3 separate regions of the Homo sapiens genome follow, and all the other regions are linked to region 1. The links come from fine-mapping of genetic effects on gene expression. A gene starts in region 1. Each other region holds a variant in brackets. All regions are shown on one strand. Distances are from middle to middle.

Region 1 (2,756 bases):
CAGAGGAGGCAGCCCTGGAGCTTATAAAATGAGGGGTTCATATGGGGGAGAGAGACCCTGGGGTTGTCGGTTAACTTTACCACATATCATCTCGTGACCGCTTACAATATAGGAATTTAGAAGAGGGTGTAACTTAAGTTTATCCACATTTCTCGTGACCTTCCCCATGCTGCCTGTTGGGCTGTAAGCAAGTCTGGTGACCTTGCTGTAGCACCTAGATAAGGGTCCAGGAATGCAGCTTCGGAGTATTCAGGGTAAGGGTCAGCTGCATTGTGTGTGGGGCGGGGGGTTCCTGGGGCAACTTGTCCCTAACAGGGTCAGGATTAGTTCTATCTGGTTCTCTATTTGCTGTCCATCTGTAAATGCTGAGAATGGCAGAGGGAGGCCAAGTGTAGATAATCAGGTTTTAGCTTTTTTGGATTTTCCTACTTCTCCTGTACAGGAAATAACTTATTGTCTAAACCCCATACTATCCCATTAAATGTCAGGAGTGCTGTCTTAGGCCTGAATTAGCTCATGACGTTACGTACTGGAAGTCCCAGGAGGAATGCCCAGCAAGTGGAATCCAAGACGTTCTCGCCTTCTCGGGGACAGGGCCATCACCAGGATTCGGAAAGGAACAGGGAGGTTCGGTTTGTGTTCCAGTTCTGAGCCCTTTACCTCATCCCTCGAGAAGCTGGCCTTTGCACCCCGCAGCCGGTGCTGCCCAGCCGACCACGCCATGCACGGGAGGCGACTGGGACCCCACTTGCCTGGCAGCCCGGCCGGAGACCCAGCTGCCTGGGAGGGTCCGAAGATAATGCCAGGCAGCCCTGGCGGGCCGGGAAGACCCTCTGTCCCTCCCGTTTCCCAGTTCTTGAATTAGGGGAGCCTTGGACTGGCTGGCGGCGCAGGAAAGTGCAGGAGGGCGGATGTGGGACCTGCTGCCGCCCAGGGAGACGGTGCTCTGTTCTTTGGAACCAGGGAAACCGTCCTCCAGCCCACTTGCCCCAGGGGGGAGCAGGAAGATCCTCTCCGGGCAGAGATGATGGGGAACCCGTGCAGCCAGAGGGTCTCCCTGGCAAAGGTCGGGGGAGGGGGCGGCCGTAACGGCCCCGGGCGCTCCGGCACGGAGAAGCCAAGGGGGTTCTCCAAGCAGCCTCCACCCACCAGCCTCGCCAGGAGAGCGTGGATACCCGAGCGGCCCCAAGCGAGTCCCCGGGGACTGGAGGGCCGAGGGGCAGCGCCCGGAACAAAGGCCCGCAGAGGGGTCCTGGAGACAGCGGCTCCCCGGGGGCGGCTCCCCTCTCTCCCCTCTCTCCCCTCCTCTCCTCTCCCGCCAGCTCCTCCTTCTCCTCCCCTTCCTCCCCCAGAGGCCCGGCCGGCTCGCGGCCCGAGCAGCGCCAACTTCGCCAACGGTTCCCAAGTTGCCGGGCGCGCAGGGGTGGGAGCTGGGTGGGGTGAGGAAGAGGAGGAGGAGGAGGAGAAGGGCTCCCGGACGCCTTGGACGCGGTTCAGGAATCCGCCGCCGCTAGCCGGCTCGGGCCTGAGCGGGGAGGGCGCCAGGCAGGACCTCTCGCAGGCTCGCTGCGCAGGACGGCGCCCGCCTGGCGCCGCTTCCCTTCCAGCGTGCCGACCGGCCCCGCAGCGCCTCCATCCCTCCGGCCCGCCCCGGAGAAGACGCACAGCTCGGGCCGCGCGGGCGCCGGGGCCGCGGAACCGCTTCTGCCGGGATCTTCCAGGAGGAAAGCGAAGTTGCGAGCGGATGCTGCCCGCGCCGGACCCCAGCCGCGGAGGGTCGGGGCCGCCGGTGGAGTCTCGGCGGCCGGGGTAAGTGGGGCGCCGGCGTCCTGGAACCGCCGCCCAGCCCGGGGGAGGCCGCCCAGCCGGGAGCCCCCGCCTTCCGCGTCCAGGCGCGCGCGCCAGACTTTGGAGGGAGAAGGGGGCGAAGCGGACGGTGGGAGGTGGAGTTCCCAGCTCGGGGAAAAGCCCAGGCAGGCACCCACAACCCGCTGCAACCGGATCACACCTGCCAGGTACACACAGCTCATCGCCACTCATACCCCGCACACGGCGCAGGCTGATCTGCGCACACCCACACCGGCCAGGCACATGCCACACACCGAAATGCACATTCCTGGGAGCGCGGGGGATTTGGCCTCTACAGCAGGCACGTCCTCACACCCCTCCGTCACATCCACGGCCTTTGTCTGCTGCCCCCGCAGCCCCCAAGGAGAGGGAGCCCCCAAAGCGCAGCGGGCAGGAGAGAGGCTGCCTGGGTTTTGAAAACTTGTGGCCAGAACCCCGAGACCAAGGGGAGCAGATGTTGCAGTCGGTTCTCGGAGTTCTGCAGGAGCGAATTTGGTGTGGAAACTCGGTGTCTGGGTGATGTGTGAGTGTGCGAAGCCCTTCCGGAGGCGAGGCCCGGAGAGAGGAGGGAGTGATTCATAAACTCAGAGCCGGCGTGCCAGGGTCTGTGAGCAGCGTGGAAGAGGCTGGCAGGCCGTTGCTGCGCTAGACAGAAGGGTAGTGGCCGTGACAGTCTTCCAGGGAAGCAGGGACCCTTCCCCCCAGCGGATGTGCTTCCTCCAGGGACTTCCAAGGGAACCGGGTGAGCAGATTCCAGTCCTGGGTGTGGACGGGGTAAGGGGAGGTGGGGGGATTTAAGCCTAAAAGGTTAGGGAGAAACCAAGGCAGGCCTGACGCCTTCATTATTTTCCTTGCACCTGAAGTTGTGTTTGGTTTCTGATGCGTGGTGTTGCTGGGCCCCAGGATGT
Region 2 (2,756 bases), 21 kb after region 1:
AATCCCTTCATCCCTTCCTTGCTTTGTGCGTTTTGTCTAACTCTGTGTTCAAGACACCAAGAACCTGGACACCCTCCACCTTTAACACAAAGCCACACCACAAGTTGGTGACAGGTCCTGAAAGATCAGTTCCTGACTAGGACTCTGATCTGTCCACTGCTGTACAGCTGCTCCCTTCTGGCTAAATCAGCTTGCTCAGACACAGAGCATAGTGGTTGAATTTGTGGACTGTGGAGCCAGGCTTCCTGTGTTCCGATCCCAGCTCTGCCTTTAACTCAGGGTAAGTTTTCTCATCCCCTTGCCTTTGATGGGGATGGTGACTATTATCCATAAGCATTATCCAGGGTTCTTCCAAAGATTAAGTACATTTATGTACATGAAGTACTTGGAACAATTCCTTGTTCACTGTGTTAACTTCTGTTACTATTCAGCTCCTCTAGGGCAGGGGCTGTGTCTTTTCCTTCCTGTTCCTAGTGCCTGGTTCCATGCTTGGCCCAGAGCAAGTCCTCAGCAAATGAATATACTTGTTTCATGTGAGCTTTTGTCACTCAGAGATTCTTTAGGTACTTTCCCAAAAGCTTGCACTCTTACAAATTTCCATCTTAGTTCTTCAAATCTTTCTTCTCCTCCTTCCTGCCGCAGAATTGCCATAGAGCAGCCTGAAGCTTGCTCTGCCCCTTGCAAAGTCCAGTGAGCCGTTCAAAGATAACCCAGATGTCCCAAGCCTCCCAGCCAGAGTGCCTGTGCTGCGCAGCTGGCGTGGTTGCCCCAGTCTCCTTCGCCCCAAGGCCATGCTTGGCCGACCCCCTGACCCGCTGAGGTTGCGCAGAGCTTTTTGGGCCCTGTAGCAGCACTGCTTGGGCACCAAGCCTTGCATGGTCTCATGGGACTCACTGCCTGCAGCCGCTAGTCCCAGCTCCCCTCCTTACCAGAACCCACACCATGTTGTCCAGCTGATGGGGGATCACATATCATGCTATTCCCTCCAGGATCCTGTCCCCTGTTTTTCTCCCCCTGCCATGAGGAGTAGCATCCTCATTTAGCCTTTCCCTCAGAAAGTCCCCACGCTTATCACTACACATGAATAGATCCCAGGAAGGTCACTTTCTCATGGTTCTGCAAAAAGCCAAACTCCAGTTGAGGTCCAGTTTGAACCCAACTAGTTCACTCCTCTGCCCTAGAAAGGCCATTTCTGCTCAATCTTACTGCCCCACCTCTACTTCCAACTTGCAAAGATCTCTTGAAACCCTGCCTCCTGTTGTGGGAGCTAGTTTTCTTTTCTTTTTTTTCCTTTTCATTACACAGTTTCATTTTGACATAACAGTAGATTCACA[C/T]GCAATTTTAATAAATTGTACAGAGAGGTCTCATGAATCTGTTACCCACTTCCCCCTATGGTAACATTCTGTGAAAGCCTAGCCTAATGTCACAATCAGAATGTTGACTTCATACAGAATCCCCTGTGGTGCCCTTTTATAACTACACTCACTTCCCTCCTGCCCCCACCCCTTCCTTGACCCTTGGCAATACTAGTCTGTTCTCCATTCTTACAGTTTTGTCATTTCAGGAATGTTCTATAAATGGAATTATGCAGTGTGTAACCTTTTGTGATTGGCTGTTTTCACTCAGCACAGTTCCCTGGAAATTCATCCAAGTTATTGTATGTGTATCAGTGTTGTTTTTTTTTACTAAGTAGGTAAAACAAGGGACACAGACCTGTTCTCCTGGCATCCCTCCCTGGTTAGCAAGAGATTCAGCAGGCCGCTGCCACTCTGGCCTTGCTGATAGCTAGTGTGTGTGCAGGCAGCAGCTCCCGCTGTCTGTAAGAGCGCCAGGGTAGTGAAGTTGGGTGCTCTAAAAGTAGTGGCTCTCCATCTTTGCTGATTCTAGGTTAGAATCACCTAAGGAGCTTTAAGTAATCTTGATGCCCAGGCCACACCAATGCAATCTGAATCTGGAGGTGGCACCCAGGCCTCAGTGATTTGTAAACTTCTCTGGATGATTCTTATGCTGTCAGAGTTGAAAACCAGTCCTCTAAAACAGCCGCAGCAGATTCACAATAGCTGTGCCATCCTCCACCCATGATAGATGTCACAGAGCAATCGCAGCACTCGTATTTTCAAATACGGCGCTCCAGGCAGCCCCTTCCCATCTGTCAGCTTTGGCCCGGGGTGGAAATTGACTTGCCCTCTTAGCTGAGAAACCGTTTGGCCATGGCCATGTCCAGGTGTGCCCAGGCCCGAGGCCTGACATGTTAGGTGAGTGTCCCTGTAAGTAATGCTGGAAAGGTGGGCCCTTGACCGATAGGAATAGTTGCAGCAGGCAGAGATCGCCTGGGGCTGGTTCTATAAGATAAACCCGAAGTGGATCAGCCAGTGTCCCTCCCCTGCAGCCCAGCATGGGGAGAGATGTACCCAAGAAATACCAACCAACAGTGCCATTGGCATAGACGGGCTCTGGCTGACATTTGTTCAGACCAGCAATAATGCCCAGCCTGTGTGCAATCTTCCCAATTTTCGGAGCTCACACAGCTTCCTTGATGCTCACAACAACCCTGTGGGGCCAGCCTAAGCTCAGAGAAGTTAAATTCCTCACCCAACGTCAGCAGAGAGTAAGTGGGAGAGCTGGGACCCACTCCAAGTCTGTCCGAGTTCAGGGCCATCTGTCCAACGCTCAGAGCAGTTAGACAATTGACCTCTGTTTCCACTGGCAGACCGAGTGTAGATGGGCTCCTCTGTGGCCATAGATCAGTCAGAGGA
Region 3 (2,756 bases), 74 kb after region 1:
TAGGTGGGCTGACAGAGAAAGGTGTCCAGGAATTTTTTGTTTTGTTTTGTTTTTTTGTTTTTGAGGCAGAGTCTCACTCTGTGGCTCAGGCTGGAGTGCAGTGGCACGATCTCGGCTCACTGCAAGCTCCACCTCCCGGGTTCATGCCATTCTCCTGCCTCAGCCTCCCAAGTAGCTGGGACTACAGGTGCCCACCACCATACCTGGCTAATTTTTTTGTGTTTTTAGTAGAGACGGGGTTTCACCATGTTAGCCAGGATGGTCTCGATCTCCTGACCTCGTGATCCGCCCGCCTCAGCCTCCCAAAGTGCTGGGATTACAAGCGTGAGCCACTGCGCCCGGCTGAAATATTTTTAAGTGAAAAATGAAAATTGCAAAACAACACATACAGTATAAATAATTTATATGAAAACAAACTGCTATACATTCTCTAAACATACTGATGTGCAGGGAAAGGTCTAGAAAGATATATTTTACATGGGTTATAGCGGTTACCCGAAGGGGCTGAAGGGGTGACCAAGGAGGATTTTCACCCTCCGGAGCCCTTCCCCCAGGCGCAGCGAGCCTATCCAGGCGCCCAGACCCCACAAAAGGAATGGAATTTCTAATCCCAGGGCTAGGGCCAGGTTGTACCACTGGCACTCAGAGTGGGAATCCTGTGTGGCTTGTAAATAACTAACTTCCTGGCCACTGATAGTAAAACTGCCACAGTCACCTTTTATTAACCACCCACCAAGGGCAAGGCACGGCCCGGCATCTCCCTCACAGCAACAAGGTGAGTATTATAAGCATGGAATTGACCGTCAAGAACTGCAGGGTCTGAGTTTCACCCTGCTTTTAGGCTAGCAAGGTAGCCTGCCATGGTTTCATGGATGCTGGCAGAAGACGCAAGACTCCTGGGACCCAGACAAAGGGCTTTATTGCTCAAACACAACAGGCAACAGGAGTTCATGTTCGCCTTGGTTCCCCTTGTCTCGTGGGGCAGATTTGGAGGTGGGCCCATGTTCAGTGGGTTTAGCTGAAGAACCCCAAACCTGGAAAACTCCCAGTCTTAGGAGGGGGCTTCCAGCAAACTTGCCCAATCTTTGCCCTGATGGGAAGCATTGTTTTTATTCCCCTGGAAAGCAAACAAATAAATCTTCCCTCTTCCCTGGAGGGAGACGCCAAAATCGCTAAGCCAAAGGGAAGAATCAAGCTGGGAACTAAGTCAAGCAGGTCCTTAACCTGGGAACTGAGTAGTGCAAACCTGCCTCCCAAGACAAAGCTACATACCTCCCTCACAATTTGCCTACAAGGAAATTCCTTGTCCTCCCTCACAATTTGCCTACAAGGAAATTCCTTGTGGACAAAGGACAGACAGAGTTCAGAGTCATCCCTCTGCTCACAGGAGACAAATGCAGGTCTGATTATTTCCTCTGCCCTAT[T/C]GTTTCACTAAGCCAGACTACGGCACAAGTAGCTATTCCTGTAAATTGGGTATTCAGTGAAAAGCTAATCAGAAACTCAAAAGAATGCAACCTTTTGTCTCTTATCCACCCTATGACCTGGAAGCCCCCTCCTTGCTTTGAGTTGTCCCACCTTTCCAGACTCAGCCAATATACATCTTACATACATTGACTGATGTCTCATGTTTTCCTAAAATGTATAAAACCAAGCTGTGCCCCGACTACCTTGGGCATGTGTCCTCAGGACCTCCTGAGGACGCATCCTTAACCGTGGCAAAATAAATTTTCTAAATTGATTGGGACTTGTCTCAGCTACTCTGTGTACACTTCCTAGGCTGTTGACTACACAAACGTCCTTGAAAAGATAATCCAGAACAAAAGCTGTCACAAGACAAGCAGGAATGCAAGGGGCCCTGGAGAACGATCTCCCAGCGTCAACAGACTGGGGAAGGGAGGCGCTCAGAAGTTGAGTCACTTCTAAAGGTCACACAGCCAGGACACACCTGACCCCAAAGCCCTTGTCTTTCCCTCCTGCCTCCAAAATGGGCTGCTGGTCTAGCCTGGGAACCAAACACCCACACGCAAGATTGCTTCCAAGTGAGTGTCCATGGTGTCATGGTTATCACGGTCACCTAGCAATATTGCTTCCACGGGAAAATCCGCTCTGAGTTCTGAACAACGACTTGTAGCAGAATCGTGGGCACAGGGCCTGTCTGTGGCTTGTGGAGCAGGCGCCGCCCAGATGTGCCTGATGCTGGGATCGAGTCATCCCAGAAGAAAAAATTCCTCCCTGGCTGCCCCTGGGTGATGTCAGAGGAGCTGGAAAGAAGAAATGAGCTTCTGGAGGTGGGATAAATGCTCTTTTCTTTTGCAGAAGGAAAAAAAAAGGTCACGTTGTTCCATATTTATTTAAATATGAAATTTATTTATAGAGCAAAAAGAGTTGGTGTTGACTTCCAGCACCCGGCCGGGAAGTGGTTTGGCCTTGTTTTTGTCTCCTCAGAGCACCCTGTCCCCTGGTGACCTAATGTGATTTTTCAGAGTTGGAGGCTAGACCCTGTCCCCAGGCTTTCAGACCTCCCTGGTCCCACCCAGTCTCTGGAGCCCATCCATCCCCGCCTGGAGAATGGCAGGTTGGGGCTCAAGCTTGGCACTGGGCTCCTCTGTCACTCAGTCCTCATCTGCAAAATGGAGGCGCGCACATCTGCCTCATGCCGCCCTCGCAGATAAAAAGCAGTCAAATAGTAAGCCAAGCAGCTTCTCACTTGGTAAATTGCTAATATGTGCATCTGTATTTATAGAGAAGGGAGCTGA

Direction of the effects. Alleles are on the strand shown, and positions count from the first base shown. SD is a standard deviation of normalised expression in the study named.
As copies of T replace C in region 2, the expression in lymphoblastoid cells of the gene that starts at base 1,510 in region 1 goes down (large effect, 0.80 SD a copy in GEUVADIS).
With allele T in place of C in region 3, the expression in minor salivary gland of the gene that starts at base 1,510 in region 1 is higher (moderate effect, 0.63 SD a copy in GTEx).

What was found.
Region 2: its variant is fine-mapped to the expression of CHST3 in lymphoblastoid cells (GEUVADIS, PIP 0.95).
Region 3: its variant is fine-mapped to the expression of CHST3 in minor salivary gland (GTEx, PIP 0.97).

The regions. Positions count from the first base shown.
Region 1 is chr10:71,962,886-71,965,641 of GRCh38, forward strand. CHST3 (carbohydrate sulfotransferase 3) reads left to right here and starts at 1,510. Exons shown (of 3, transcript NM_004273.5): 1 at 1,510-1,809.
Region 2 is chr10:71,984,384-71,987,139 of GRCh38, forward strand. The region is part of intron 1 of CHST3 (carbohydrate sulfotransferase 3); the gene reads left to right. Among named protein-coding and RNA genes, the nearest start is that of CHST3, 21 kb to the left of the region's middle. RefSeq lists enhancers at 585-634, 695-764. The variant C/T (reference allele first, on the strand shown) is at 1,335.
Region 3 is chr10:72,036,739-72,039,494 of GRCh38, forward strand. No RefSeq gene overlaps it. Among named protein-coding and RNA genes, the nearest start is that of SPOCK2, 50 kb to the right of the region's middle. The variant T/C (reference allele first, on the strand shown) is at 1,425.